Linked DNA regions of Homo sapiens: regions 2, 3 and 4 are each linked to region 1. Evidence: fine-mapped expression QTL. A gene starts in region 1. Each other region holds a variant in brackets. All regions are shown on one strand. Distances are from middle to middle. Region 1 holds the start of MGME1 (mitochondrial genome maintenance exonuclease 1). Region 2 has its middle 60 kb from the start of ZNF133. Region 3 has its middle 32 kb from the start of SNORD17. Region 4 overlaps MGME1 (mitochondrial genome maintenance exonuclease 1).

Region 1 (7,306 bases):
GCAAAATAGGGATTGTAAGTTACCCCCATTTTAATGAATGAGGCCCTATCCCACCAGGCAGTGCTGTTAATTTGCCCCAAAGCAAAAAGCTGGACAGGCAGCCTGGCACCAGAATCTGTTTCCAATCTACCACACAGTAGAGCAAAGGAAGCAATCTTGGAAATCACCAATTAGATACTCAGAGAAACAGAGCAGGAAATACACGTGCTTGGAACATGCTTGCAGAGAGACCCACAGAAAAGGCGGAAAACAACTTTACATTTGTCAAGTTTTTTTTTTTTTGAGACAGGGTCTTACTTGTCACCCAGGATGGAGTGTACTGGCTCGATCATTGCTCACTGTAACCTTGAACACCTGGCCTTAAGCAATCCTCCTGTCTCAGCTTCCTCTACAGGCATGTGCCACCACGCCTGGCTAATTCAAAAAAATTTTTTTTTTGTAGAGATGCAATCTCTCTACGTTGCCTAGGCTGGTCTTAAACACCTGGCCTCAAGCAATCGTCCCACCTTGGTCTCCCAGAGTGCTGGGATTACAGGCATGAGCCACTGCACTCGGCCTTCAACTATTTTTTACAAAGATGGAAATGTCAATTCTTTTTTTTTCCAGGCTGGAGTGCAGTGGTATGATCTCGGCTCACTGCAATCTCCACCTCCCAGGTTCAAGCGATTCTCCTGCCTCAGCCTCCGTAGTAGCTGGGATTACAAGTGATCGCTGCGCCCGGCTAATTTTTTTGTATTTTTAGTAGAGATGGGGTTTCGCCATTTTGGCCAGGCTGGTTTTGAACTCCTGACCTCAAGTGATCCGCCTGCTTCGGCCTCCCAAAGTGCTAGGATTACAGGCATGAGCCACTATGCCCAGCTGGAAATGTCAATTCTATCATTAGCAAAAAATGGAATCCCTTCTGAAAAATTATTTGGAGAGTTAAATGAAATTCAACTTAGGAACTAAGTTATTCTACTCCAAATTTACTTGACTCAATTGGAATTATTAACACGTGAAAGACCTACAAGAAATTTATGACTGATGGAATTAAAGCCTAGGAAAAAGAAGTGTATAGCATTCATCTACACACTAGGTTAATGAAGCAGAAGACAAACATGTTAAAAACAGGAAGAAAAAAACTTAGCAAATGCCATGCCAATAGACCATACATTTCTCGCTGCAAACTTACCCCTGGCTAGGTTCTTCATATACACATGATCACAAACATGAAAACCTAGATTACAGGATCCTTTAGACACTAAGGCTCAGAACATTCAACATGATTCAATTTATAAAAATAAAAAATGATCCAAGAATATTCACTGCATGTAGCATCAAGTCTGCTTATTCACTCAAAGTAATGAAAGTGAAATGTTTTCAAGTCCTCGTATATGAAGTGCACTAAAAAAAACCTTCATGCATCTCCAGTATTCTCATGATGGAACTGGCAGGATGGCTAATACTTCAGGATTAAATCAGCGTAGCAAAAAAAAAAAAAAAAAAATTAAAACCTAAACCCCATCCCTTTGTGTGTATTTATACACAAAATATAAATCAGAATAAGTCAGACTTTCTCATTCCCACCAGTCTTCAAAAGATGAACTGATGCTTGGGAAACTGCTCAAGTATTTGGAAGAATGCCAGACACATTTCTATGCTCTCACCTTTGAGAAGACTGGGTAGAAATTACTGATCCAATATTTTTCATTAAAAAAATCTTCTTAATTTTTAAAATGTAATTCTTCTTGGGTGCCACCTTCTTGGGTTTGGGATCCAGTATCCTCCAGACCCGTTAATCAATTTAGTGAGCCCTTTTTCTTTTATTCACCATGACACTAATTGTCCCTTTATTTATTTCAGAACCCACTGCTTACTAATACTTATTTTCTAAAAAGAGTGATTCTGCCTGGGCACAGTGGGTCACACCTGTAGTCTCAGTATTCTGGGAGGCCGAGGTGGGAGCACCACTTGAAGACAGGAGTTGGAGACTAGCCTGGGCAACATAGGGAGACCCTTGTCGCTACAAAAAATAAAAAAATTAGCCAGGCATGGTGGTGCACGCCTGTGGTCCCAGCTACTCAGCAGGCTGAGATGGGAGAATCACTTGGGTCCCGGCGGTCAAGTCTGGGCGGGGTGCTGGGGTAAGCGATTCTGCTCATTTCTTAAGGTTGCTACTGAGTTAACTGAGAAACACAGCTGAGTGCTAATCTAGATCAACAAAGCTGACTCTATGAAAAAAAAAACAACCAGTCTTCTCTCTGCCTGGGCTATTGGGGCTCATTCACATTCCAAACAGAAATTCCTCTCTGGTGCACTTCCTTACTTTGTGCCAAGAGCTACAGGCCCTGGGGTCCCATGTGTTCCAGCAGGTTTCTGCCTTTTAATAATACATTTCTTATTAGTAATTTCAGCTGTACATTCCTGGTTTAAGGAAAATAACTTCTCATGAGAAAACTATCAATTCTAAATTTTAGTGGTACAAATACAAAACTGTAAGATGCCATTAGAAGATTTTTATGTTGCTTGCTTGGAAAGCAGACAATAGTTTGGTGGTTGCTACTAATTAACTATCTTAGGAAGGCAGTTAGCTCTTGCATATATAATCCTTGCCCCACACAGCTGAGGAATATTATAAGGAGCAAAGGCCTTGACCATTTGGTACATATCCAATACCACCTATATATACTTAGTATTTTTCTTTAGAACATGTGACATGTTTAATGTGTTACACGCATAGTTTTAGGAGTCTGGATTAGGGAAAAGACGACTTAAATAGAAGCCCAGGCTATGGCAAGGGTCAGTACACTATTCTTAAAACAAAAATGAAAGAGTTTGTGTACTACTAAGAGTACATGTACTGCACTTTGGGAAGCTTGGGTAAAGGAATGATTGATGTGAAACTTTCCTTTAACAAAAGACCCCTATATAATTTATGGGACTAGCTAATTCACCAGTGCCAATGGTCTTTGTTTTTGAATGGAATATTAAATTTAAGGAAGCTATTCTCCTCACTTGTCCAAGTTAGTAAATTAGAAGTTGAAGGTTAAAGTGTATTTATCCTCAGATCCTTATGAAGAACCTCTGATTATGTTTACCAAGGTCTAAATATAGGTCATGTGTTCTGGTCTGCTTCAAGGTCTTTAAATTTACGAGTCAGTTTACGCTAATAAGTAGGACAGTGGGTATTTACTGGATTCTAAACAGAATTATCTAGCAAACAACTAGAATTCTGTTACCAGGTGACTTTTTTCAATAATCAAGGAAAACAAGCAATTCTAATATTGTTGGTAGCTTATAAAACAAGTGAATTTTATGTATTATTTAGTCAAATATTTGATCTATTTTAGTTTCATCTGTAAAATGTGGATAACAGTATCTATACTCCACAGGACTACCATGAGGATCAAGTGAGTTAATACACATAAAGTGCTATTTAATGTTAATTACTATCTGAAGGGAGTTCCTTGCTAGTAAGTTAAAAAAACAAAACCAAACCTCATTCTTTTGACACCGTTGCTCTCTATTATAGAAAACATAGCAAACATATAGAATCAGAATTGAGATAATTACTTGAAGTGTATTCTTTAAAGCCATCTTCTCCCAGTTCCAGAATCATCCGCTGTTTCCACCTCTCCAACAAGAAAACCTGTTGTTTTGTCATGGTCTGCTGAAGGACTCGGGTCACACTTGGTATCACATTCCTTTGCAAGGGGATTTTCAAAGGAACTGAAGGATCACTTGCATTTGGTTTATCACTTCTCTCTGGATTGAAGATAGGAAACCAGTTTTGTGGCACTCGTCTGTCCTCACCTTGGTTTGGCAGCTTATGCTTGCTCACGGGTCCACAGAGCAAAGCATCTTCCTCCACCGATCCCGGGGTCTGGGCGACGCCTCTGGATGACAAGACAGACTGAACTAAATTAGAGTATTTTTCTTGGTCCACTTCTTCATATGGGTTCACTTTTTTCTTCCGGCCACATGAGTAAGAGGAAGTAGAGAAAGCCACAAGGGCAGCTGATTCCACAGAAAACTTTGAACTCCTGAGCTGCCTGCAAATGGTCTGAAATAACTTCATCTTCATTCAGATTTGTTTTCACTTTAGTCTATTTGCAACGGTCGAAGGCCTTTATGTTTGTATTCCTATTGGAGAGAAAACAACCATCAAAGCGAAAGCTGCATCAGAATGATATTGCACATCAAAATTGTGAACTTTTTCGACATGTTTGGACAGAGCCCTTTCTTAAGAAAGTCGACAGAGCGAGACCCTGCCTCCAAAAAAAATTTATAAATAAATCAAGACTCAATACCCGAAGGACCGACACATACTAAATGCGAATTAGTAGACAGCTTGAGGCAAGACGTCCCAGTTTCTAATCTGCAGGAATGTGACGCCCAGGAAGGGAGGCGTGTGCGAGACACGGAAAAACACAAAGATGGAGCCCGTCCCATGGCGGCCACACAGTCCTAGGTGACAGACGACGACTAATTCCTAGACACCAGGCTCTCTGCTAAGTATTCTGTGTGGATACTTCTCATTTGGTCCTCACACCCTCTACCGTGGGTCTAGAATGAACCCGTTGCACAGACGTGGAAATCGGGTTGGAGGGTCCCGTCGCTCGCCGGTCAGAGCTGGTGGCGGCGCTGAGGTCCCATTACTGTGACCGCAAAAAGTCGCCTCCCGCTCCGCCGTGGGTGCGGACCCCTGGCGGGGCCAGGACGGCGGTGGCCCCTGTGGCAGGAGTCTGGATTAGAGAAAAGACGACTTAAATAAAAGCCCAGCCTACGGCAAGTGTCGGTACCTTGGAAGCCACCACACTTCGCTTAACTCTCAAGGCGCGAACAACCTCTCGCGACCCGTACTTTCATCCGTCCCGCGCTTTGGTTTCGAATTAGGCACAGCCTAAGGCAAAGCAGGTCCAGAATGCCCCGCGGCGCTCACGCCCCACCCGAGGCTTTCGTCGGCCTCCGCCAACGCGCCACCAGTTAGAGGCAGGGAGTACCTCTCCGAGCGGAAGGGCCGGCGTCTCCGAAGCGCGGGAGCCTCCAAATCGCGCCCTTCTGCTCTCACGAGATCTGGTGACGTCAGCGCTCGCTGCCATCTTGGACTCGGGCTGAGTAATAAATTCCCCCCGCACCGAAACGCGGTCTTTCTCTAGACGCGTCTTGCTGGGAGAGTGTCCGTTGCTTCCCGTCCGTGTCGCGGCCCTGCGGTTGGCGGCCTCCTCGTGGAGCGGAGCAAGGGTAGGCCCCACGTGGCGTCTTTGCCCGGCTCCAAGATGGACGGCAGCGGGGACTGGGAGGCTGCTCTGGGGGAGCACGTGGCGCCCTGCTCGCCTGCTCCCGGGGCAGCTGGGATGGTGGCGGAGTCCGGAGGCCTCCTGCCGCCGTCGGGCAGGGAGGCCGGCGGAGGCGGGGCCGTGGCCGCCCCCGAGAGGCGCCCAGGCGGCGGCGGCGGCGGCCCAGCTTCTTCTTTCCTCGCACAGCCAGGCGGCCCCTGCTCGAGTCCCGCGTCGCCATGGCCGCGGTTCCCGAGTTGCTGCAGCAGCAGGAGGAGGACCGCAGCAAGGTGAGGTCCTCCCAGCCTCAGACTCCTGGGCGGGCGGCCCTGCGAGCTCCGGGGTCGCTGCATTCTTTCCCTTGCGCGTCCATAGGCCGTGGCTGCTCGCCGCCATCCCCAGCGCGGGAAGCACCCGTGAGACCCGGGCGGCCCCTCTCCCTGGTCTTCACTGAAGGCTGCCCCGGGGAATCCCTGTGGATGTCCCGGATTCTATTAGGACAGAACCAGAGACGCGGGACCTTAGCCCCAGCTCAGGCGCCGGTGCCGAGCGGACTTGGAGAGATGATCTCTGGAGACCCCGGAATGTTCTTTTTAAAACTTTCCTCGGCTTCGTGGTGACCAGTAGGTGAACGTGAAATTGACTTAACATGCGACAGACCAGTTTGGTTTGTTGCCCCCAAAATACCCTCCTTCCCCCCACCTTTTACTGAGAAGACTTTTTTGGGGGGGGGGCCCAAACAACTTGGGAAATTGCATCAAGCGTCCGAACATGCTGCTTACAACTTTAGAAACGCAAAATGCGTTGTTGTGGGAGTTGTGTAATTTTTAGTAGGTGCTCAAATACTTGCTGAACTTGGTGTCTATTTTTAAGTCTTGCCCATTGATGTAAACTGTCCCTAGGTCACGTGTATCTTGAGGTCTAAAAGATTATTTATGCAATAAATTGAAATTCCCATAGCCAATTAAAGATTCAGACGAGCCTCCACTCTTTTTCATTGGTTCTTTAAATTTGCCTCGGTAGCTTTGCGATGCATGGTTTGCGAGCAACCTTTCTTGCAGAATCGTCAACGTAAGTTTTTCTGACCGATGAAAAAGAACCTCTAAAAATACAAGGCTCTCTTAAAATGTAATTTGGAGCCGTCTTAACTTACACATTTCTTGAGAAGTTAAAGGCACCTCCATAGAGAAACTTGTTCATCTAGTAAGTAAATACCAGAGTTTCAAAGCGGCTGGATTGTTCCAACAAGGGTATCATTGCATTAATTATTAAAATAGAGCTTTCTATACAGGAGGGTGTTGTTTAGAGTGGTTTTTTTTTTGAAAGTTCTTTATTACTAAAACAAAGTGGAAACTTGAGACCACGATTCTTTGTAAAACATTATAAAGGTACTTTTCTCCATAAAGGGTAGATAATGGATTGGGATTTTGGTAGCATTTTATTTTTTCTTTCTTTCTGGTACATTCTTTTAGCTGTCTTGATTCGGAGTCAGCTAGGTAAAAGGACTCAATTGCTTCACCCCACTCTCTGGTAGTACAGTATATTGCAGCTGGTTTTTAAAATGACTTCCACCACCCTGATCCTCCAGCAAAATTGGAGAATGGTTATGAAGGCCATTTCCTGCCTGTTTTAGAGGCTACAGAAACTGTCCGTATCTGTAGCGAAGAGAGTTACATGACATTGTTTTCCTTTTTACATTACAGGAATAAAGAGACAATAAAAATAAATAATTACCCTGACGCGTGGCTTTATTTTTGTTTTCTGATCTCTGCTGATGCTGATAACCTGCTGTGGTCTGGCCTAGATGGTGTTATGGTTAACTGAAAGGGAGTTTGGGGCAAGTATGAAATAATGGGAAACTAAGTCTTGGGCAACTTTTTGCCATAATACAATTTCGGTAGTCAACTGAAATGTTTTGTGTGTTACCTGAAATGTGTGTTACTTAAATTGTTTAAATGCCCTCCTGATAATTTACTTTGGTTTGGAATTCTCCCTAAGGATGGAGTTAATTAAGACTCACTAAGGTAGGGGGACATACTTGATTCTTC
Region 2 (8,038 bases), 260 kb before region 1:
ATTACTCAGCCTGAAAAAAAAATGAAATTCGGATACATCCCACAACATGAATGAACCTCAAAGACATTATGCTAACTGAAATAAGGCAGATACAAAAGGACAAATATTGTGTGATTCTACTTATATGAGGTATGTAGTGGCAGAAAGTAAATTCTGCCACTAATTAATAGAGACAGAAAGAAAAACAGTGGTGGATGGAGTGGAGGGATTAGGAGTTATTGTTTAATGGGTACAGAGTTTCAGTTTGGAATGAAAGAGTTGTGGAGATAGTGATGAGAGTTTCACAAATGATGTAAATGTCCTTAATGCTATTGAATTTTACCCTTTAAAAATTATTAAAATGATATAGTTTATGTTATATATATTTTACCACAATAATAAAAATCTTGAAGTTTTTAAAAAAACAAGGGATAAAATAGCAAACTTCCATTTGCATAAATGAATATATGTGTGGCTGTGGCTGTGTGTGTGTACAAAAATATATATTTGGATGTATTCAGGAAATTTCTGAAGAATATGTGAGTAGTGACAGTAGGTTTCTGGTATGGCAGAGAGTATGAATTTTTCAATGAAAACACTAGATTTAGAGAGGAATATTTTTCATAATATGGTAAAGAATTTCAAATAGATCACCACAATGCCTTTTGCTGCACTGAACTTGTAATCTCTCTCTCAATTTGCTGATCCAGTCCATTACACATACACTACACCTACGAGTAGAGCTAACAGCCAGTTGGCACCTTTGTGTAATTAGAAAAAGACATGCATTCCTCTGGGTAGTTACAGCCCCACAGGCATGCAGCGTGGGGAGCAGAGAGGAAGACAGATGTCAGCCCCTACTTGTCCCTCAGCTGGGTGCATTTTGTAGTGCACAGTATGCACAAGTGTCGATGGTGACCCTGGCTGCAGCCACATTTTCCCTACACAATAAGGGTTATTATTCATAGACCAAGAAAGAACACATAGCACATGTTGTTAAAAATACAGCATTTTTCTTTTTTTTCTTTTTGAGACAGAGTGTCACTCCATCACCCAGGCTGGAGTGCAGTAGCATGATCTTGGCTCACTGCAACCTCCACCTCTTGCGTTCAAGTGATTCTCATGCCTCAGCCTTCCAAGTAGCTGGGATTCCAAGCATGTACCACGACGCCCAGCTAATTTTTGTATTTTTAGTAGAGACAGGGTTTCACCATGTTGGCCAGGTTGGTCTTGAACTCCTGGCCTCAAGTGATCTGCCTGCCTCGGCCTCCCAAAGTGCTAGGATTACAAACATGAGCCACTGTGCCTGGTTAAGAAATACAGCAATTTTTTTTTTTTGAGACAGAGTCTCGCTCTGTCACCCAGGCTGGAGTGCAGTGGTGCAATCTCAGATCACTGCAACCTCCGCCTCCCGGGTTCAAGTGATTCTCCTGCCTCAGCTTCCCTAATAGCTAGGACTACAGGCACATGCCACCACTCCTGGCTAATTTTTGTATTTTTAGTAGAGATGGGGTTTCACCATGTTGGCTAGGATGGTCTTGAACTCTTGACCTTGTGATCCATCCGCCTTGGCTTCCCAAAGTGCTGGGATTACAGGCGTGAGTCACTGTGCCTGGCCAGAAATACAGCATTCTTAAAAATAAAGGTTTATTTGAACTGTGGTATATATATGTGATGGAATACTACTCAGCCATAAAAAGGAATGAATTAATGGCATTCCCAGCAACTTTGATGGGATTGGAGACTATGATTCTAAGTGAAGTAACTCAGGAATGGAAAAACCAAACATCGTATGTTCTCACTCGTAAGTGGGAGCTAAGCTATGAGGACGCAAATGCATAATAATGATACAATAGACAGTGGGGACTCCAGGGGGAAAGGGTGGGAAGGGGGTGAGGGATAAAAGTCTACAAATTGGGTTCCGTGTACACTGCTCGGGTGGTGGGTGCACCAAAATCTCAGAAATCACCACGAAAGAACTTACTCATGGAACCAAACACCACCTGTTCCCCCCCAAAAAAACTATGGAAATACAAAATTTTTTTTTAAAAAAGACTAAAAGGCCGGGCACGGTGGCACGCACTTGTAGTCCCAGCTACTCGGGAGGCTGAAGCAGGGAGAATCGCTTGAACCCGAGAGGCAGAGGTTGCAGTGAGCCAAGATTGTGTCACTGCACTCCAGCCTGGGCGACGGAGCAAGACTCAGTCTCCAAAAAAAAAAAAAAAACAACTGAAAAAAAGGTTTCTTTGAGAAGTACACAGACAGTAGAAGTAGGAAATATTTAACTCTTCTCAGTAGTTACATGGATACAATAGAAATGGCGTCATCTACATTTCTGCTTAACCATTGGTTGCTATGATTTTCATAATCACAGTGACCTTTCTGGTTACCTGAGATTTGATCCTTTCTCTCAGAAGGTCCTAAGAGTTTATTTAGTAGAAAGAAATCCCTTCTTTCTTTTTTCTCCCCACCAATTTGGTGCCAGTAATGAAAGCCTGGTATTATGGGAAGTGGCCTCTCTGGACCTGGTCTGAGGATATCAATGCGTCAATGTTAGGCCAGAAGAAGTTACGTGATCAACATGACATCTGATTTCAGGTAAACAAAATTCACACCACTGACTAGTTTTTGTATTACTTTGTTTTTCAGAACAAAATACTGTATAAGCCACATTACCCCCATACAAAGAATTGTAATCATTTGTAATACTTATGAACTAGGTATTCATTTGTACAAATCTGGAAAGCCAAGATGACCTGGTAATGCTGAGTCAGAAAGGGGCAAAGCAAGAACAAAGGCTCAGTTACCTTGACAGCCGGTTTAGCCTTTCACAGACACACGGGTTTACGCTCTTAAATACACCAAGTTCATGATAAACACATGCTTTATAAAACCAGATCATTCTGAATCTTTGTTTTTTATTTTTTTTCCTGAGACGGAGTCTCTCTCTGTCGCCCAGGCCGGAGTGCAATGGCATGATCTCCGCTCACTGCAACGTCCGCCTCCCAGGTTCAAGTGATTATCCTGCCTCAGCCTTCTGAGTAGCTGAGATTACAGGTGGGTGCCGCCATGCCTGGCTAATTTTTGTATTTTTAGTAGAGACAGGGTTTCACCATGTTAGCCAGGCTGGTCCTCAGGTGATCTGCCACCTCGGCCTCCCAAAGTGCTGGGATTACAGGCGTGAGCCACCACGCCCAGCCCATTCTGAATCTTTTTTTTTTTTTTTTTGAGAGGGAGTCTTGCTCTGTTGCCCAGGCTGGAGTGCAGTGGCACAATCTTGGCTCACTGCAACCTCCGCTCACTGCAACCTCCGCCTCCTGGGTTCACGCCATTCTCCTGCCTCAGTCTCCCGAGTAGCTGGGACTACAGGCGCCCGCCACCACACCTGGCTAATTTTTTGTACTTTTAGTAGAGACGAGGTTTCACCGTGTTAGCTAGGATGGTCTCGATCTCCTGACCTCATGATCTGGCTGCCTCGGCCTCCCAAAGTGCTGGGATTACAGGTGTGAGCCACCACACCCGGCCATTCTGAATCTTTAAAAGTAAATCTTTTTCTATGGAATCTAAAATAGACCTGATTTCAAATGTATCCTTTTTTTGTTTGTTTTTTTTGAGACGGAGTCTCACTCTGTCGCCCACTGGCTTTCCAGATTTGTACAAATGAATACCTAGTTCATAAGAATTACAAATAATTACAGTTCTTTGTATGGGGTAGTGTGGCTTATACAGTATTTTGTTCTGAAAAAGTTAAGTGC[A/G]GAGTGCACAGTGATCTCGGCTCACTGCAACCTCCATCTCCTGGGTTCAAGGGATTCTCCTGCCTCAGTCTCCAGAGTAGCTAGGACTGCAGGTGCCTGCCACCATGTCCAGCTGGTTTTTATATTTTTAGTAGAGACAGGGTTTCATAATGTTGGCTAGGCTCCTGACCTCAGGTGATCTGCCTCCCTCGCCCTTCCAAACTGCTGGGATTACAGGTGTGAGACACTGCACTGAGCGTCAAATGTATTCTTGCTTTTAAAAAGAACAGTTTTAGGCTCACAGAAAAGTTGCAGATAGTAGAGTTCTCCTTTACCCCCAATATCAACATCTGGTATAACCACATTAAAATTAAGAAATGTACATTCTTGTTTGATTATTTACTATAAAAAATTTTTTTCTAGGCTGGGCGCGGTGGCTCACGCCTGTAATCCCAGCACTTTTGGAGGCCAAGGCGGGCGGATCACAAGGTCAGGAGATCGAGACCATCCTGGCTAACACAGTGAAACCCCGTCTCTACTAAAAACACAAAAAATTAGCTGGGCGTGGTGGCGGGTGCCTGTAGTCCCAGTTGATGGCGGGGGTGGGGGGGTGGGGAAGAGGGAAGGGGGTGCTAAGGAAGGAGAATGGCGTGAACCTGGGAGGCGGAGCTTGCACTGAGCCGAGATCGCCCTACTGCACTCCAGCCTGGGTGATGGAGAGAGTCTCAAGTCTCAAAAAAAAAAAAAAAAAAAAAAAAAAAAATTCTAAATGGACATGGGTACTATACTATTAACATAGCTGCAGACTTTATTTGGGCTTCAACAGTTTTCCCACTATCACATATAGATGTCATGTCTCCTTAATCTCCTAAAACCTGTGACAGTCCCTCAGTCTTCCCTTGTCATTCATGACTTTGCCACTGTTGAAAAGTACTGGTCACTGATTTCGTAGAATATCTCTCAACGTGGGTGTGTCTCGGCGTTAGATGGAGTCTATTCATTTTGGGCAGGAAACCACAGGTGGCATTGTTCCTTCTCCCTGCATCCTACTGAGGGAACATCATGTTGATGTATCTTCTTACTGGTGATGGCATTGTGTCCGGAATTGGTGGGTTCTTGGTCTCACTGACTTTAAGAATGAAGCCGCGGACCCTCGTGGTGAGTGCTACAGTTCTTAAAGGCGGCGTGTCCAGAGTTTGTTCCTTCTGATGTTCGGATGTGTTCGTAGTTTCTTCCTTCTGGTGGGTTCGTGGTCTCGCTGGCTCAGGAGTGAAGCTGCAGCCCTTCGCAGTGAGTGTTACAGCTCTTAAGGGCGCGCGTCTGGAGTTGTTCGCTCCCCCCGGTGGGTTTGCGATCTCGCTGGCTTCAGGGGTGAAGCTGCAGACCTTCACGGCGTATGTTACAGCTCATAAAGGTAGTGCAGACCCAAAGAGTGAGCAGCAGCAGCAGGATTTGCGAAAAGCGAAAGAACAAAGCTTCCACAGCGTGGAAGGAGACCCGAGCAGGTTGCCACTGCTGGCTCTGGCAGCCTGCTTTTATTCTCTTATCTGGCCCTACCCACATCCTGCTGATTGGTCCATTTTACAGAGAGCCCAGTGGTCTGTTTTGACAGGGTGCTGATTGGTGCATTTACAATCCCTGAGCTAGACACAAAGGTTCTCCACGTCCCCACTAGATTAGCTAGATACAGAGTGTCCATACAAAGGTTCTCCAAGTCCCCACCCGAATAGCTAGATACAGAGTGTTGATTGGTGCATTCACAAACCCTGAGCTAGACACAGGGTGCTGATTGGTGCATTCACAAACCTTGAGCTAGATACAGAGTGCCCATTGGTGTATTTACAATCCCTTGGCTAGACATAAAAGTTCTCCAAGTCCCCACCAGACTCAGGAGCCCAGCTGGCTTCACCCAGTGGATCCAGCACCAGGGCAGCAGGTGGAGCTGCCTGCCAGTCCCGCGCCGTGCGCCTGCACTCCTCAGCCCTTGGGTGGTCGATGGGACTGGGCGCTGTGGAGCGGGGGGCCACGCTCGTCGGGGAGGCTCAGGCCGCACAGGAGCCCACGGAGGAGGAGGAGGCTCAGGCATGGTGGACTGCAGGTCCTGAGCCCTGCCCCGCAGGGAGGCAGCTAAGGCCCGGTGAGAAATCGAGCGCAGTGCCGGTGGGCCGGCACTGCTGGGGGACCCAACATACCCTCCGCAGCCATTGGCCTGGGTTCTAAGCCCCTCATTGCCCGGAGCCGGCAGCGCCGACTGGCTGCTCCAAGTGCGGGGCCCGCCAAGCCCACGCCCACCCGGAACTCCAGCTGGCCCGCCAGCACCGTGCGCAGCCCTGGTTCCAGCTCGCGTCTCTCCCTCCACACTCCCCTGCAAGCTGAGGGAGCCAGCTCTGGCCTTGGCCAGCCCAGAAAGGGGCTCCCACAGTGCAGTGGCGGGCTGAAGGGCTCCTCAAGCAGGGCCAGAGTGGGTGCCAAGGCCGAGGAGGCACCCAGAGCGAGCGAGGGCTGTGAGGGCTGCCAGCACGCTGTCACTTCTCAGTATCTTTGATCACCTAGTTAAGGTGGTGTCTCTTGGATTTGCCTGCTCTGAAATTACTATATTTCTCTTTGTAATTAATAAACATTTTGGGGGACATACTTGAGTCTGCAAATATCCTGTTTGTCCTCAAACTTTTGCTGAATAGTTTTAGAATTCATTGGTGAGTCCAACAATTATTATTGTGCTTTTCTCAGTGATTTTCTATTTTCCTCATTCCTTCTACACATAAGCAAAAGCTGCTCTTTCTTCCTTATTTATTTATTTACTGATTTTTAAAAACTTACTGGTATCAGTATGGACTCATGGATGTTTATTCTATGGTTATAATCCAACATTACTTTTTTTAAGTCTTAAATTGCTTCAGCTTTGGCCATTAGGAGCTCTTTCAGGTTGATTCCTGTGCCCTTTGACTGTCCTCACCCTTTTTTTCCTGGCATTTCCCTCCTTACTGGCACCATAAGGTGCCTCAGCTCTGGAATAGAAGCATCAATGATATTGCTGTCTAATTAATCATGAACAAAACAAATTATCACTATTGATCTCTACATGACAGAGCTAAAATAATGTCCCAGGCCTCTATGTCACCAACATTTAGAAACTCTGTAATTAGTTTAGATACTATGGTTTTATTTTACTCTTTTGTCCATTTAAGTAACACCTAGAACAATACATCACACGTGCTCAATACATACTTGTGAAATGAATGACTACTCTGTGCCAAACACTGTCTGAGCCCAGCACAGGAAAAACCCAGCACAGAGCTTGGCAAAGGAAAAACACCCTTCTGAGAATGCACGGTTCCTTCTGAAAATGCATAATCCATGCGAGCATTTTTCTTTCTTGGCCAGAGAAGAATTATCCATGTAGCTGGCTTGGGGTTTCTCTTCTTTTAGGATACTGGAGAAAACAGTTGGGGCACACGCCTGCTAACATCAGGTCCTATATAGCAGCTCTCAATTCCAGACCTTAGTGCAGACCCCAGAATGGGAAAGGTAAGCAAAAGAATGGCAGGACACGGGGGATTATGCCGAGAGTCAAATGTCACCACCTCTGAAGGGCTGCTGTGCCTGCTGGCCTAGCCAGAGCACCTTGCCCGCTGATTTTCCAGATGGTGGTTGTTGCTGTTTGTCCCTAGATCTGCTCAGTCTTAGCCTTGACACTGTTTAAATCTGGATGAAAAAGACAGCAAAGAAAACAAACTTAGGGCTTTCTTCTTTTTTTTCCCTGCCCCACCAGTGTTCCCTGGATAGTTTGGCCCCGGCATTCAGCCAAGAAAAACATCTGTGATTCAAGAATCATGACACAGCCAGGACCTGCCACCCTGCAGCTCAGAGGCTTTCTTTTCTTGCAGACAAGGGTGAAGAAGTTAGAGGTCAGTATACTCTCAGTCCTCAGGGGCTCCAGCCTGCAGCTCTGTATTGTCAGCTCGTCAGAGATGTGGGACAGGGCACACTCTCTGTGGGAGCCGGCAGGAAAACCAGGCTGTGCTCAACAACAAGAGAAACAAAGAAAGCACGAGGGCTGAGCTGAGAGAACCCTGCCATGAGTCAGCCTGGGGCTCCGAGGGGGCATAAGGCCAGGCTGATACACAGACACCGCCTACCCTCTGAGTCCCTGAAATGGATTTTTTTTGGGTCCTATTAGCCAATAGGAAGTTGCATACAAAGAACAAAAATTCCTAGGATCACCCATCAAATCAAGTTAAACCTGGGCTTTTGGTATACTGTCTTCCCAGCCACTGAGAGAGATTTCTGTAAAGAAAGCATTGTTTTGTTGTTTTGTTTATTTA
Region 3 (8,038 bases), 40 kb after region 1:
TCCTCCCCCATGGCTGGGCCTCTTTCCTTAGCTAATCAGGCTGATGAAAGGCCCTGCTGCCTGCCCACTCCCTCTCTGTAATTTGCTCGTCCTTCTCTCTAATTTTATAGCCTCCTCAGCAGTTTCCCAAAGATCGGGGGCTCAGTTTCCACTGGACCCCCCTCCCTGGCTTAATGAAAGGGGCTGCTTTGCAGCCACTGACTAGCTAAGGGTGGGGATCATTCTTAAAGCCCTAGGGGATGGGAAGATGTGTTGGCAAATGTTTTAGAGCAGGGGCCAACAACCCCTTTTGTCCGCCAAGTGCTATCCTAAGTCCCTTTTTAGCCACTTCTTGAGAAAGGCCCTTACAAGAAGAAGCGGGCGGGAGGCGGCGAGGCCGACTGCTGGGTGTGGAATGTCCGGCTCTGGGTGGTAGCCTCCTTGTATTATTGCCTTATGTTGCGGTTTAACTGCTCTTGCTCATTTTCCTCGGGGTCTTATTTCCCCGGCTGGATTGCAGCTCCCTTAGGGTAAAGACTCTGTGATGTGTTTGAATCACCCAGGCCTCCCAGGGTTCTGCCTCTGTCTCACTCCCTGGCACCGGTGACCATGGCCAAGCTCCTGAAGCTCATCCCTTTCCACGTTGGTAAAATGGGAGGGGGGTTACTCTGAGCACAAAAGGAGAGTCCAGTTAGTGAAGGGGCTGCCACCCCTGCCTGCCCCGGAGAGGTGTTTGGAATACCGGTCCTATCTCAGGGGAGAGTCGTAGTTGCCACTAGGAGGAGGGGCTGTGAGCGCTGAGGTAGGCCATGCACAGCCTCAGTGAATGCTTAATGAACATGACCTTGGTGTTCTCTTATGGGCCCCTGCCCATCTCCTGGCTGCAGCTATGCACACAGTAGACTTTCAGTCTATGCTGTCTGTGCCTTTGCATGCAGAGCCATTGGTCTGGGGACTAATTCTAGGGGTTTCATTTCTGTAAAAGAGCTCCTGTCTTTGGGCTTCCATGGTGTAGCCAGGCTGGGCTAGCAGCTCTCCTGCGGCAGTGCAGAGCCTGCTCTCCTGGCTCTGGCTGGGGCTGGCCCTTTGCTCAAGTGCCTCTGGGGGCAAAGTCGTTAGCCAGGTGGGCTTGGAAAATTCAATACCCAGCCTGAAGATGGAGGGTCCTCCCCTTCTCATGGGTCTCCTCTGCTGAAATGCCTCCCTAGAGTCACCCTTTGCTCTCCATCCCCTCCCCTGGGATCAGCAGTGCTGTTCTCAGTTTTCCTCAGGGCCCTGGACCCCCAAAGTCACCTGCAGTTCCTTCCTGCACACCCAGTGGCATCCTACATCAGGACCTGCCTGCCTCTCTTCTCAAGGGCACCCCTGATGGCAGGGGCACACTCCACCAAGCTGGGAATGCCCAGAGTTAGCACACACTCCTACTGGGGCTTCCTGGGGCCATCCCCCCACAAAATGCTTCTGCTTGAATCTTCCTTTTGGGTCAGCTCTTGGGGAAAGCTGGGCTAAGGCAACATTACCAAGCAGTCACACGTGAATTCCAGGGACTCTTGCTCTGTGGTTTTCATCCCAAGTTGCAGAGGATTTCCCCTGAGTGCCCAGGAGGGCAGGAGGGCTTCTGACCAGGGCAGGAGGTGCCATGGGAGATGGCTGGGTGAGGCCAGCCAGAGGCTGCGGGGGACCCTCCCCCTCACCCCTCTTCCTCAGCCTTCCTGACGCTCTGAGAGTTGAGGGGACCCCTGGCCAAGGTCTAACAGCCCCTGATGTTTTCTTTCCTTTGGTAGCTTTGCATGAAATGATGAAAGTCTATTTAATGAGGTGCTGGGATTGTCAGAGGCTTCTCACTGTTGAGAAGTTTTTTTTGTCTCCCTGTTAGGGACTGTTCAGGTCTCAATGCAAGTTAGGAGAAGAAAAGGCTCAGACCAGGGATCCCTGATGCCTGGCCCAGCTCTTGGTGGTGGGAGGAGGTGCCTCTGTCCAATGGCCTGAGGGAGCACCAGGCAAGATGTGCCACAAGATACCTGTGTCCCTACACCTGCACTAGTCTCTCCGCCTCAGTTATCTCACCTGAGAAACAGGGCTGGAGAGTGGGGTCTGCAGACCCCATTAGTGGGTTGCAGGAAAGGAGGAAGTCCCTTTACACTCTAGAGGGTTATTCAAGTGCAGTGACCACTGTCATTCAGGGATTGAGGGCCCAGAGCCAGGCGGGCAGCTGGGAGGTGCCCAGAATACGTCTTCTTAGTGAGAGCGCTGTGGCCAGCTGGATGGGAGCCCCTAAGGCAAAAGATGAACTTGTTTATTCCACAAATATCTGAACCCCTACCAGGTGCTGGGCGCTAATAGTGGTAGACAAAATAGAGAATCTCCTTGCCCCCATGACACTCATATTCCATGGTGTGTGTGTTGGGGGAAGAGAGACAATAAACAAATAAGCAAGTAAATACATAAAGAAGCGAGGTGGTAAGTGCTATGGCAAGATATATACGAAGGAGAGTGATGGGAGAGGGGCTTTTTATATGGACTGGCCAGGGGAGACCTCACTGAGCAGAGACCTGAAGGCAGTGAGAGAGAAAAGGCCCATGGAGTTTGCAGGGAGTGGGGTTTCAGGCAGAGCAAAGAGCAAGGGCAAAGGTCATAAGTTAGGGGCATGTTTAGTGTGTTTGTCAGCTGTTGTTAGCTACATAACAAACTACCCCCAAACTGTTTATTTTATTTATTTATTTATTTTTGAGAAGGAGTCTTGCTCTGTCGCCCAGGCTGGAGTGCAGTGGCATGATCTCGGCTAGCTGCAAGCTCTGCCTCCCGGGTTCACACCATTCCCGCCTCAGCCTCCTGAGTAGCTGGGACTACAGGTGCCCACTACCACACCCGGCTAATTTTTTTTTTTGTATTTTTAATTTTAGTAGAGATGGGGTTTCACCATTCACAGGATGGTCTTGATCTCCTGACCTCATGATCCACCCACCTTGGCCTCCCAGAGTGCTGGGATTACAGGTGTGAGCCACTGCACCCAGCCCAAACTATTTATTTCTAATGGCTGTGCTCAGCTGGGCAGTTCTTCTGGTAGCTGGGCTCACTCAGTTGTCAGAGGTCAACTTCCAGGTCTGCTGGGGCCAGCTGGCTGGCTCAGAATGGGGTCAACTGAGATAGCTTGTCTTAGTTCTGTGTGGGCTCTCATCCTCCAGTGGGCTAGCCCAGGCTGTTCTCATGGCAGCTGGGCGGGGTTCCAAGAGAGTGAGTAGAAGCTGCAAGGCCCTTGAGGTCCACTTGGAACAAGCACACCATCCCTTCTCCTGCATTTCACTAACCAAAACAACTTACAAGGGCAGCCTAGATTCAGGGGGAGGGAAAACAAACTCTATCTTTTGATGGGAGAAGTGGCAAAGATTACAGCCACTTTTGCCATTTACTATATAATCCCCCATTTTGGGGGGGTGAGAAACCAGGCCTCAGAGAGGCAAAGGCACAAGCCACTTGCCCAAGACCACACACTGCTGAGATTCACATCCATGCCTATGGGTTTACCTTCATGATTTGTGCCTTTTCCAGTATTGACTGTCTTTTGTTTATCCATTAAGTTTCTTAAATTGATTTTTTAATTTCCCCAAAATTACATGTTAAGGTAGAAAATACAGAAAAGCAAATAAATCACTGCAATGGCAAGACCCAGAGGTGATGTGCCAAAGCAACCCTTCAGGCTTGTTTCCCACACGCACATGTGACTCCATACCCCAGCTACACACACACACACACACACACACACACACTCAAATACTTTCTCAGGTGGTGTCTTTATCTCATGTGAAAATAAAGAAAAAGTGGCCACAGGCTTGGTGCCATGTCTCACACCTGTAGTCACAGCATTTTGGGAGGCTGAGGCAGGAGGATAGCTTGAGGCCAGGAGTTCAAGCTCAGCCTGGGCAGCATGGAGAGACTCCATCTCAAAAAAAAAAAAAAAAAAAA[G/AG]AACAGCGGCCACAGGGAGATTTCATCTCTAGGAGGGTCAGATAATTTGGAGATATTTATGTTTTTAAAATCACGCAGCCTGGGCAACATAGGGAGACCCTGTCTCTACCAAAAAATAAAAAAATTAGCTGGGCATGGTGGTGTGTGCCTGTGGTCCCAGCTACTTGGGAGGCTGAGGTGGGAGGATCATCTGAGCCCAGAAAATCAAGGCTGCAGTGAGCTAGTGATTGCACCATTGCACTCCAGCCTGGGTGACAGAGCAAGACCCTGCCTCAAATAAAATAAAATAACAAATAATCAGAACGGGCCTGTGGAATAGTGACTAAATGCCAGTAGCATTTTGGGGTCCAGGTTTAGATGAGTCTTCAACACCAGAGTGACTTTTTGGATGGCGGGTGATGAGGACTGGGCAGGTGGTGGCCCAGGCGTGGGGAGGTGTCCACGGCAGGTGTTCTTGGCTGGGCAGGCAGCCAGCAGGGCCGGGGTCTGGAATCCACGACATGAAGACTGCACATATGAGAAGGTGGGGGGGACCAGGGATACCCCGAGGGCAGGGGAGTGGGGTTTGGGGTGGTTGGTGGGGAACGTGACAGCAGCCAGCCAGCCTTTCAGGACCACCAAGGGAACAAAGGAAGAGGCAGAGCCAGGTGTGTGGGGTAGGAGAAACAGATTTAACTGGCTTCTGAGGAACCTTCTGGTCATCAGAGCAGCCATTGTGGGAGGTCAGGAGGGCAGGTGGGCTGGAGTGGATGGTGCTGGTTTCCGCCTGCCCAGCCTCCTGCCCTTGGTAGAATCCCGGTTTTCCTGTGGGGCACCTCCCCACTTCCAGTCTTGCCCTTTCTGGTAGGCTGCCCCCACCCCGCATGCAGCTGTGGCCAGAGCACTGGGGTCTAGCCTAGGGGAGCCTCATCTCCTTGCATCCAGCCACAGATACTGGCTCACACACTGGCACCTGACCCCTGGCAGTCCAAGGACAGGGAGCCCCGGGACTGTGGCCGGGCTGATAGTTGGGGATGCACTCCCATTCTGTTGGAGCTGCAGGGCAAGCTGGGGTTAGTGGGGACTGCAGGGGGCCATAGAAGGGAAGGCAGGACTGAGATGATGGGAGAGATTCCTGATGGCATGGCTCAAGCACCTGCATCCCGGCCGTATCCACTACACGCCAGGCACCATGCTGGTGGGGACATTCAAGGGTCGGTGGTTATTTGCATTCCAGTGTGCCCAGTGCCAGGGGAGCAGGAAGCCCAGGGGCCGCGGAGCCCAGGGGACAGGCAGGGGCATCTCCCTGGGCTGGAGGTGAGGGGTCAGAGAAGCCTTCTGGCGGGAAGTGATTTGAGCTCCCATAGCCCAGGGGGTCGTCTGGACCATTAGGCTGTTTCCAGCCAAGGGACAGAGCAGGTGTGGCCACTTCACTCTGCCCTGGACCCTCCTCCCTCGCTGCCCCTCACTCCCTGTGCTGCCAAAGAGTGCTGCTCCCTCTCTGAGACTTCGCTTCCTCTTCTGTTACTTGGCTCTAATGAGCCCTCTGCCTAAAATCACTAGGGAAGGTGGTGAAAATGCACATTCCTGAGCTTCGACCTGCAGTGTCCTGGAGGGGTAGGTGTGGGCTCAGGAATGTGCCTCTTACCCAGCGCCCAGGGGCCTCTATTGAGAGCCCTGCACCCACACTTTGAGAAGCTCACTGAAGAACGCCAGCAGGCCCTTTGGTTTGGGGGATCCACTGAACGCGCTGTTGAAGTGGGACAGGTGTTTGGCCAGGGCCTTCCAGCCGTGGCACCGTCAGAGGCTACGGGTGGCCCCTCTGGGACACACCTTTGGCAAACACCAGCAACTGATCCCGTGGATAGGCTCCTCATCCTGACAGCCTGAGTCCAAGCCCTCAAGGTGCCGAAGCACCTGCCGAGACGGGGGAAGGACCTCCGTAGAGGCAGCCTCGCCAAGGGCCCCTGGGGAGGGTGGCTCGGGGCTGAGGCTTCCTCGCAGTCATCCCAGGAGACCCTATCTAGGCCATGTTCCTTCTGGGGCCTCGGCCACCTGGCCTTCCTGCCGCTCCGCACCTTTGTCAATATTTATTTCTTCTCTGGACTCGAACAGCCTGGTATTTGTTTAAAGGGCAGGAGCAGACGTGGCTGTTCCTGCCTCCTTGCCTTGCGCCCTGCTTCCTGGCACCTCCCCAGGGTGCCTCTTGCCTGCAGGTGGGCTCACCAGGCAGGCCCACCTCTGTCCCTGGCCCTCCCACTGGGGCCAAAGGCCTCACAAGAGCTTTCTCACTTCACCATTGACTCCAATTTCCCTCGAGACACCTTGACCTGGGCCTCTGGCCCAACGCACATCATATGTGGCCTACAGGCCTAGAACTGAGATGCTCAGAGCATTAGCAATGTTCCGAAAATACTCCTGGCTTCTGATCCAATAGAACAAGCCACAAAGAGGTTGTGGCAAAAGGTCATGTGGTTTGAAACAGATTTGCACATCATTTTCGGAGAAATCAGAGCCTGTCCTGGGCTGAGGCTAGGGCGTGGACCTGGGAGACCTGCACTGGGAATGCGGAGCTGCTAATACTCCTGATAAATGTGTGACTGGCCCTCGGACAGGTCACTGGACATTTTTTCTGCCAAACAGATTCAGATGTGATTTGTCATTTTTGCCTCCTCCCAGCCTCGGGGGCATGCTTCGGACAGAGGAGGCTTCAGCCTTTACCTCCCCACTCCCACATGCCAAAATATTTTGAGATCTGTTGCCTCAGTTTTGAGTACTGCTCACATCAACACAATGTGGGGATTGTTCCTTTTCTAATAAAGATACTGCTGAAAAACTGGACATTTGATGCTTTTTTAAAAAACCTTTATATTTTGACCCACTTTTAGAAAACTAGTAGTAAAAGTAGCAGAAAATTTGCAAGCCTGGTACAGGCAACTTCTCTATGTCCCTCCAGCAGTTGACCCCAATCTTGCAAAACCATAGCACAATTTGCAAAGCCATAGCACAGTAATCAGAACCAGGAAATTAACCTCAGTACAGCAGCCTTAATCAAACCAAAGATCCCGTGTGAACTTCACTGGTTTTCCCATTAACGTCTTTTTCTTGCTCCAGAATCCCATCCAGGATCCCGCATTTGCATATAGTTGTTTTTTTCTCTCTAGTCTTCTAGACTCTATAATAGTTCCTTGGTCATTCCTTGTCTTTCAGGACCTAGATACCCATGAAGAGTATTGATCAGTTACTTTGCAGAAGTCTCTTAGTTCAGGCCTGTCTGAACTTGGGCTCAGGTTGTGCATCCCAGGCAAGGGCGCCAGAGGCCTGGGGCTGCATCCTGCTCACTGCACGTGTCACGGGGGCATGGCGTTGATGGCTTACGTCTGTGATGATGGCCCTGATCACCTGGTCAAGTGGTCTCTGATGGGCTTTTCCTTGGTAATGTTTTTTCTGTCCCCAAACCCCACCCTTGTCAACAAACCTCCTGGAAGAGATACTTAAGGCTTTGCAAACCCCTTTTTTCCTCAAACCTTCCACCTATTCTGTTGTCTATTAGCAGCTCTTGTCTGCAACAATCACCACTGTGGTGTTGACCTAATGCTGATTTCTCCTTTGCTCCTTCCTTCCGCATGGATTGACTGGATTTTCATTGCAAGGAAGAGCTGTCACTTCCCTATTGACTTATTTAATCAAATACTTATATCAGTGTGGACTTGTGGACATTTATTTAACTCTATGGGTTATTGTCCTAAACTATCATTATTTTTCTTATTGTTTAAATTCTTCCAACCTTGACCATTTGGAGCTCCTTCAGGGCTCCTGTGTTCTTTCAACAAACCACCATCTTCTTCTAGTTCCACACGATGTTCCAGGATTTGCTGCTGGTTTTGCTCAGTTAATTGTTACATATTCTCTTTGGGTTCTGCATAGATTGTGAGCTATGAGAACCACAGATCACATCTTCTGCTTGATATCAACTACGGGCTAGATTATGCTCAAAACTTATTTCTGAGTCGTTGGCAGAGCCAGTTCTTTGGAACTTGGAGATTGGCAGTTGTGATTGTTGTGTTGGGAGCAGTTAAAACCAGGCGGAGCCCAGTAGGCTCCAACTCTGCTGTCT
Region 4 (8,038 bases), 23 kb before region 1:
TGTTAGATAATATTTGTTATCTAACAGATCTTTAAAACTATATCTATGTCTCTGATGATTAATATCTAACACTTTCATACACTTTTCAATCCTTTTAGAAGTCCTCGCAGAGAATGGCTGAGGCTGATTGGGACGCATTAACTGGGGCTCTGGTGAGCCGACTGAGCTGAGTCCCCTGCAGTGCCTGTATGACCTGCACCAACGTGGGAATTGCCATCTCTCCTGCTGGAAAATCAGTGCTGCCTGTGGGAAGCCCGCCCTGGTTGGAGCTGCAGTTTCCTACCAGTTTGGTAAATAGCCTCATTTCTACTTTATCTCACTCCACTTTTCCGAACCGGTGACCCAGATGCATTTGGTAGCAAGGGGCCTCACTGGGCTGTGTAGCCAGGCTTCTATATTATTGTAGTAGAAAAAGTGAGAAGTACAAGCTGCCTGAAAATACAGAGGTAAAGGAAGAACACTCATGTAGTTGATTTTATTCAAAACAGACCTGTGTTGGTGACTAAAATGCCCAAATTACCCGGAGATAGATGTAGGTCCGCCCATTTTTGGCTTCTGCCCCATAATTGCAGTGTACTTCTCTCACCACTAGATGACAGTCGCGTTTTAAAGCAGATTTTATTCACGCGTTAATGCTGTTCCAAAAAAAAAATGGTTTTCATACCGTCAGAAGAGGGGCTCACAACTCTTGTGTTAGAGAATATGCGAGAAATCAGGAAATTTCAGACACCACTGGTGGGACATTAAGTCGATGTCACTGTTTTGGAGAGGAATTTGGTGGTAATGTTCAAGCTTTGACCCAGCAGAGACACATCCAGGTCTGATCATTTGATAGGAGGATGGCTAACATTTTGTTCCCACCATGTGTCAGGCACTTTTCTGAATGCTTCGCTCATTCAATCCTCACAATTTCAAGAAGCAGATACTATTATTTTCCCCCAAATTACAGATGAGGAAATCAAGCACAAAAAGGTCAAGTAACAGGCCGGGTGCGGTGGCCCACGCCTGTAATCCCAGCACTTTGGGAGGCCGAGGTGGGTGGATCACGAGGTCAGGAGATCGAGACCATCCTGGCTAACAAGGTGAAACCCCGTCTCTACTAAAAATACAAAAAAAATTAGCCGGGCGTGGTGGCGGGTGCCTATAGTCCCAGCTACTCAGGAGGCTGAGGCACGAGAATGGCGTGAACGCTGGAGGCCGAGCTTGCAGTGAGCCGAGATCGTGCCACTGCACTCCAGCCTGGGCGACAGAGTGAGACTCCCTCTCAAAAAAAAAAAAAAAAAAAGGTCAAGTAACTAGTCCAAGGTCACAGAGCTAGTAAGTGGCAGAGTCACAATCCATACTGCACTTTCCACTATATTGCATGTGTATTGTGTGTACCAGAAAACACGTGCAAAGGTGTTCACTGCTGCATCGTCTGGAGTAGCAAAACACTGTTAACCGAACAGTCCATTAGCATGACAATAAAACAGGAGGGAGAACTGCAGAGGAGTTAAAAGCAGTTATGAAAGATCTAGAATTGGTGAACCTGGAGACATCTCAAAAACAAAGTTGAGATAAAGCAAGTAAATCTAAAAACACAGAAAGCAAAACTATATTATACATGGAAACCAGTACACACAGTAAAACTATACAAAAAAACCCACATCAAATTTATGACGGCATTTGTCTCAGGGGAGAGGGAAATGGGATTAAGAAAACAAGGCAACAGCTTTTATCTGTAATGCTTTTTTTTTTTTTTTTTTTTTTAGAAGACTGAGTCTTGCTCGCTCTGTTGCCCAGGCTGGAGTGGAGTGGCATGGTCTTGGCTCACTGCAACCTCTGTCTCCTGGGTTCAAGCAATTCTCGTGCCTCAGCCTCCCAAATGGCTGGAATTACAGGTGCCCACCACCACGCCCGACTAATTTTTATATTTTTAGTAGAGACGGGGTTTCACCATGTTGGCCAGGCTGGTCTCGATCTCCTGACCTCAGAAGATCCACCCGTCTCAGTCTCCCAAAGTGCTGGGATTACAGGCATGAGACACCGCGCTGGCCTGGTCTATTTTTTGTTGTTGTTGTTGTTTGTTTTAGAGACAAGGTCTCACCCAGGCTGGAGTGTAGTGGTGTGATCATAGCTCTCTGCAGCCTTGGACACCTGGACTCAAGTGATCCTCTTGTCTCAGCCTCCCAAGTAGCTAGGACTATCAGCATGACCCCCATGCCCAACGACTTTTTTTTTTTTTTCCCAAGACAAAGTCTCGCTCTGTCGCCCAGACTGGAGTGCAGTGGCGTGATCTTGGCTCACTGCAAGCTCCGCCTCCCGGGTTCATGCCATTCTCCTGCCTCAGCCTCCCGAGTAGCTGGGACTATAGGCACCCACCACCACGCCTGGCTAATTTTTTGTATTTTTAGTAGAGACAGGGTTTCACTGTGCTAGCCAGGAAGGTCTCGATCTCCTGACCTCGTGATCCGCCTGCCTCGACCTCCCAAAGTGCTGGGATTACACGACTTTTTACTTTTTAGAGATGGGAGTCTTTCTATGTTGCCTAAGCTGGTCTCCAGCTCCTGGCCTCAAGCGATCTTCTAGCCTTGGCCTCCCAAAGCATTGGGTTCAAGGTGTGAACCCCTGCACCTGGCCTGTAACAATCTACATATTTTATATCTATTTCTTAAGTAAAATGGGAAAAAACCCTCAAATCTGAACCCAAAACATTATTTATTTATTTATTTGAGACAGGGTCTCATTCTGTTGCTGAGGCTGGAGTGCAGTGGTGCAATCTTGGCTCACTACAACCACCACCTCCCAGGCTCAAGCGATCCTCCCTCAGCCTCCCAAGTAGCTAGGACCACAGGTGCATGCCACCACACCTGGCTACTTTTTTGTATTTTTGGTAGAGATGGGGTTTTGCCATGTTGCCCAGGCTGGTCTCAAACTCCTGAGCTCAAATGATCCGCCTGCCTCAGCGTCCCAAAGTGCTGAGATTACAGTCATGAGCCACTGTGCCTGGCCATCTTTTTATGATTGGATCTTCACAAATGCATTACTCAACCTGACAATTGTTATTGTCATGGCAACATACAAGCCTTTTGCTCATTCTGGGGTCTCTCCCCAGAGATTCTCTCTAGTTCCCTTCAATAGTATAAATAACTGAAGTGGATCAGTAGGTTAGACTTCCAGCAGAAGCACATATCTGCTTAACTTTTAGGCCTCTGCTGGCGGGAAGGGAGGCAGGAAGGAAAAGTCAGTTCTACTTTTTACTTAGCATTGAGTGATTTAACACATAGCTCCAAACAACTTATTGTTTCTTTAAACATGGAAGTTTCAACTATTCTCTATTTTGTTTCTTAATGTTTTTTACTCCAATGATTCCCTTCCTTCACTCTTTTGTTGAGGGGTGGGCAGGAACACAGGGTAGGTTATAATCAAATATTTAATTGCTCGGGTGGAAAGCCTCAGTGATTAAAACAAAGTACCCTTCTCCAATTCCTTTTAAAGCCAGTAGCCAAATTGGTTACCTAGGAACACACTGACTTATGACTAACCCCCTTCCTGTATTTACCAAGGTCAACACATATGAAACCGTAGGTCATACACTGACGAGTTTTCCTAGAATTATAATAGGGTTATAGAGGCTAATGTTCTCAGATTATCAGGCTCTGAGGAAGAGGCCAGGTGTAAGGAGGAAAAAGGCCATACATGTATGTGTATATATTTATACTTTTTTTTTTTTTTTTTTGGAAAAAACAAAATTGGCTTTTGTGTCAGCATGGAACTTCTGTCAGTTGCTGACTGCATTGGTAAGAATGGGTAGAACTGTGGAGGAAAAGGAAATGCAGTTAGCTTTGAAGCCAACGGATTTTCTCAAAACTAAACACTGGAAGGCAACATTCTGTACTTCTGAGAAAGCCTCCTCAGAAAAGCAATATACACACACCTCCTTTAAAAAAATGTAAATTATCCTTGAGCGTCTCTCCTTATTTTGAATGCTGTTTCATTTCACTGGAGTTTCATATGCAGTATTTCACTTCGGCAAAGAGATGGCAACCAACAATTCCTAACATACGTGTTAATTCCTTTTTTTTTTTTTTTTTTTTTGAGACGGAGACTCGCTCTGCTGCCCAGGCTGGAGTGCAGTGGCGTGGCCTTAGCTCACTGC[G/A]ACCTCTGCCTCCTGGGTTCAAACAATTCTCCCGTCTTAGTTCCCCAAGCAGATGGGACTACAGGTGTGCACCACCAGGCCCAGCTAGTTTAATTTTTAGTAGAGAAGCAGGGTTTCACCATGTTGGCCAGGCTGGTCCTGAACTCCTGACCTCAAGTGATTCACCCGCCTCGGCCTCCCAAAGTGCTGAGATTACAGGCGTAAGCCACTGCCTCATACATGTTAATTCTTGAAAAACTGCAACTCATTTAGAAACTCAAATTTGACTTTCTCCTCCTATGCTTTCGTAGTAACAATAACTTTTTCCGTTGACATTAACATCTCAGGAGATGTGACCCCCGAGGAGTATCATGATTATCAGGAGAAACTGGTGAGCCCTTGAGGTCAAGAAAACCTGCCCAGGGATTTACCTTCTCTGTTCTTATACCAACCACATCCTCCTGGTCACACTCTCCTGAGGGGCTCCCTCATAGAACTTTTCAGGCCACCATTATCTTGGGAGACTCCTAGTACAAAGTCACAGGTCTGAGACAAATTTCTATTTACATAACAGAACACCTGTATTAAAATGAAATTTTGCAGCTGGACATAGTGACTCACGCCTGTAATCCCAGCACTTCGGGAGGCTGAGGCAGGCGGATCACCTGAGGTCAGGAGTTTGAGACTACCCTGGTCAACATGACGAAGCCCTGTCTCTACTAAAAATACAAAAATTAGCAGGGCATGGTGGTGCACGCCTGTAATCCCAGCTACTTGGGAAGCTGAGGCAGGAGAATTGCTTGAGCCCGGAAGGCGGAGGCTGCAGTGAGCCCACCGCACTCCAGCCTGGCTGACAGAGCCAGATGGTCTCAAAAAAAAAAAAAAAGAAAAATAAAAAGAAATTTTGTTAGGTCTAGCCTCCTAAATTCTAGGTTGAGGCTTATTAGAGCAGAGTGGCAAACTCTGCTAGCACAACTTTTAATTGCCTCACTTCATTTTTGACTGGAATTTACAGGCTACAGAAATATGTATCTGCAGCTTGAGAAAAACCCACATGAATGCAGAAGTGTATAGAGATAATACAAAGGTCCCCCTTGATCCTCCCATCTCCTACCTGAATATTGCTTTCCTTGCTAGGTGACCGTGGCTGAGGGCTTAGTGAGGAGGCTTTTTTTTTTTTTTTTTTTTAAACGGAGTCTCGCTCTGTCGCCCAGGCTGGAGTGCAGTGGCGTGATCTCGGCTCACTGCAAGCTCCGCCTTCCGGGTATACGCCATTCTCCTGCCTCAGCCTCCGGAGCACCTGGGACTACAGGCGCCCGCCACGACGCCCAGCTAATTTTTTGTATTTTTAGTAGAGACGGGGTTTCACCGTGTTACCCAGGATGGTCTCGATCTCCTGACCTTGTGATCCGCCCGCCTCGGCCTCCCAAAGTGCTGGGATTTCAGGCGTGAGCCACTGCGCCCAGCCGAGGACGCTTTCTTTTATGCACTTACACAGAACTCTCACCAAAGCTATTGGGCTTGTAAAATTCTGAATTATAAAAAAAGTGCAAACAATTTCCAGGTTTATAAAATTATCCTATAAACACACAAAGTAAACAAAACCAAAGCTTCATTACTCATATCTTGTATTTTATTTCTTATGAAAATGGCTACCCAAAGAAGTCATTGTAGCAGGCTACTATTTTAAGGCAGCAACTGTATAACTTAAATGCTAAGACTCACTCCATAAGACAGAAAACCCTTCCCCAGGGCTGTAATGGGCATTTAAGTTTCCCAAACCCAGGGACAACTAATTTTTATTACCTATTGAATAGAAACAAATGGATTTTAATAGTTCCCCTCCCCTATAGCTGAAAAACTCCACAAACAATAATTGACTCTATCTACATGATCTGTTGACTCACGCCAGAAATAGTTACTAAAACACTTAGAATTGTGATGTTCAAACTGGCCTCTGGCTACTTCTGGGGGGTTATTTGGTGTTACGCAATGACATATTGCCAGCGACATGGTGAATATACTGTCTTTATAGTCAGCAATGTTTAGTTGAGGCTAATCACGTATTTATTTTTTCAAAAGGTTAAATGTAAGCTTTTCCCAGCTGAAATATATAGAAAACCCCAATGTATGAAACAAGTTTTAGGCATTGGTGTTGGCAGCGGTAGTGGGCTGATGTGTCCTCCCTGCACACAGCTGGGGGCATGTAGCCCCTTCCCCTCTGGGTGAACCCTGGGGAAATCTTGGCACCCTCAGCCTCACTGCCTTCCAATCTCAGCTCAAAGACTGGGCATCCTGCCTGGGACCACGCCCCCCCCCCCCCAATGTCCCTCAAGGGAGTACAAGAGTCACCAGCATGACTGCCCATCCTGCGTGTCCTCCTTTCAGGTAAATAAGAGGTAGCATAGCTGGGATTTCGCGTGCCGAAGTCTAGGTCTTTATATCTAGACTTTGGGGCTTTTCAGTCTTTTTGGTAACAACACATTTCAACAAATTAATACTTCTACTTGTGTTCGTGTAGCACTCAGATCCAGTGGCACCTCATTTTTACACTGGAGTAAACAGCAATATATGTTCCCAAACTGTGAGAAGGTGCTGAATGTTCCCAAATAGCAACTTGCTCCCTATTCTGAATATTCTGGTTTCTGAATATTCTGGTTCTTTTTCTTTTCCGTATATTCTTCTAGTCGAAGAAGCCACTTGGTCCAGTACTGGGAACAGAGCTCTGCATCCATGAAATGTGGGTGGGCAGGTGATCCATCTTTGTAGGCCACCACAATTAAGCCACATTGAACCTAGGAAGAAACACAGGGCAATTCTCGTTTCACTACAGTAGGTCCAGAGTTTAGGTTCGTTTCCTTCTTACTCCAGGGCAAACTCAGTATAAAATAATCTACAGGATATCTCCTAACTCAGTTTCTAAGGTAGGTTGATCAAAGACTGCACCAGGACACAAGAACACAAAGATGACAGATAAAACATTGAAGACTGGGCTGTGATCCTTACAGAGCCATTGAAAAAAAAAAAAGGCCCAAGAAGAGGGTGGAAAAGTGCTTTTTTTTTCTTTTTTGAGACAGGATCCCACTCCCATCGTCCAGGCTGGAGTGCAGTGGCACAATCTCGGCTCGTTGCACCCTCGAAGCTGAGGCGGGCACCACTTCCGGCTGATTTTTCTATTTTTAGTAATGATGGAGTTTTGTCACGTTGCCCAGGCTGGTCTTGAACTCCTGGGCTCAAGCAATCTGCCCACCTCGGCCTCCTTCAAAGTGCTGGGATTACAGGCATGAGCCACCACCCCTGGCCAAAAAGTGCTATTTATTTATTTATTTATTTATTTATTTATTTGGAGAGAGACAGTCTTGCTCTGTTGCCCAGGCTGGAGTGCAGTGGAACAACCTTGGCTCACCGCAACCTCCGCCTCCTGGGTTCAAGCGATTCTCCTGCCTCAGCCTCCCAAGTAGGTGGGACTAGAGGCACACACCACCACGCCCAGCTAATTTTTGTATTTTTAGTAGAGACAGGGTTTCGCCATGTCAGCCAAGCTGGTCTTGAACTCCTGACATCAGGTGATCTGCCCAACTCGGCCTCCCAAAGTGCTGGAATTATAGGCTTGGGCCACCACACCTGGCCTATTTATTTATTTTTGAGACAGGGTTTTGCTCTGTCGGCCAGGCTAGAGTGCAGTGGTACAATCTCGGCTCACTGGAACCTCCACTTCCTGGGCTCAAGCAATCCTCCCACCTCAGCCTCCCAAGTAGCTGGCACAAGTGTGCGCCACCATGTCCAGCTAATTTTTGTATTTTTTTTGTAGATACGGGGTTTCACTATGTTGCCCAGGCTGGACTCAAACTCCTGAGCACAAGCAATCTGCCTGCCTCGGCCTCCCAAAGTGCGTGAGCCACTGTGCCCAGCCAAAAAGTG

The links.
Region 2: its variant is fine-mapped to the expression of MGME1 in coronary artery (GTEx, PIP 0.98).
Region 3: its variant is fine-mapped to the expression of MGME1 in whole blood (INTERVAL, PIP 0.98).
Region 4: its variant is fine-mapped to the expression of MGME1 in fibroblasts (GTEx, PIP above 0.99). The same link has a PIP of 0.9 or more in monocytes, spleen, subcutaneous fat, visceral fat and whole blood.

The regions. Positions count from the first base shown.
Region 1 is chr20:17,966,617-17,973,922 of GRCh38, reverse strand. MGME1 (mitochondrial genome maintenance exonuclease 1) reads right to left here and starts at 4,905. Exons shown (of 5, transcript NM_052865.4): 1 at 4,782-4,905; 2 at 3,553-4,122. The coding sequence starts at 4,063. SNX5 (sorting nexin 5) reads left to right here and starts at 5,129. Exons shown (of 13, transcript NM_014426.4): 1 at 5,129-5,548. The coding sequence starts at 5,498. RefSeq lists enhancers at 3,911-4,040, 4,061-4,260, 3,200-4,399, 4,981-5,290, 4,907-5,661 and 3 more and a silencer at 5,291-5,500.
Region 2 is chr20:18,224,793-18,232,830 of GRCh38, reverse strand. No RefSeq gene overlaps it. Among named protein-coding and RNA genes, the nearest start is that of ZNF133, 60 kb to the left of the region's middle. RefSeq lists an enhancer at 7,021-7,520. The variant A/G (reference allele first, on the strand shown) is at 3,735.
Region 3 is chr20:17,926,732-17,934,769 of GRCh38, reverse strand. No RefSeq gene overlaps it. Among named protein-coding and RNA genes, the nearest start is that of SNORD17, 32 kb to the left of the region's middle. RefSeq lists a silencer at 3,048-3,248 and an enhancer at 4,987-5,513. The variant G/AG (reference allele first, on the strand shown) is at 3,943.
Region 4 is chr20:17,988,813-17,996,850 of GRCh38, reverse strand. MGME1 (mitochondrial genome maintenance exonuclease 1) reads right to left here. Exons shown (of 5, transcript NM_052865.4): 5 at 5,729-6,912. The coding sequence ends at 6,742. Among named protein-coding and RNA genes, the nearest start is that of MGME1, 24 kb to the right of the region's middle. RefSeq lists an enhancer at 651-720. The variant G/A (reference allele first, on the strand shown) is at 4,139.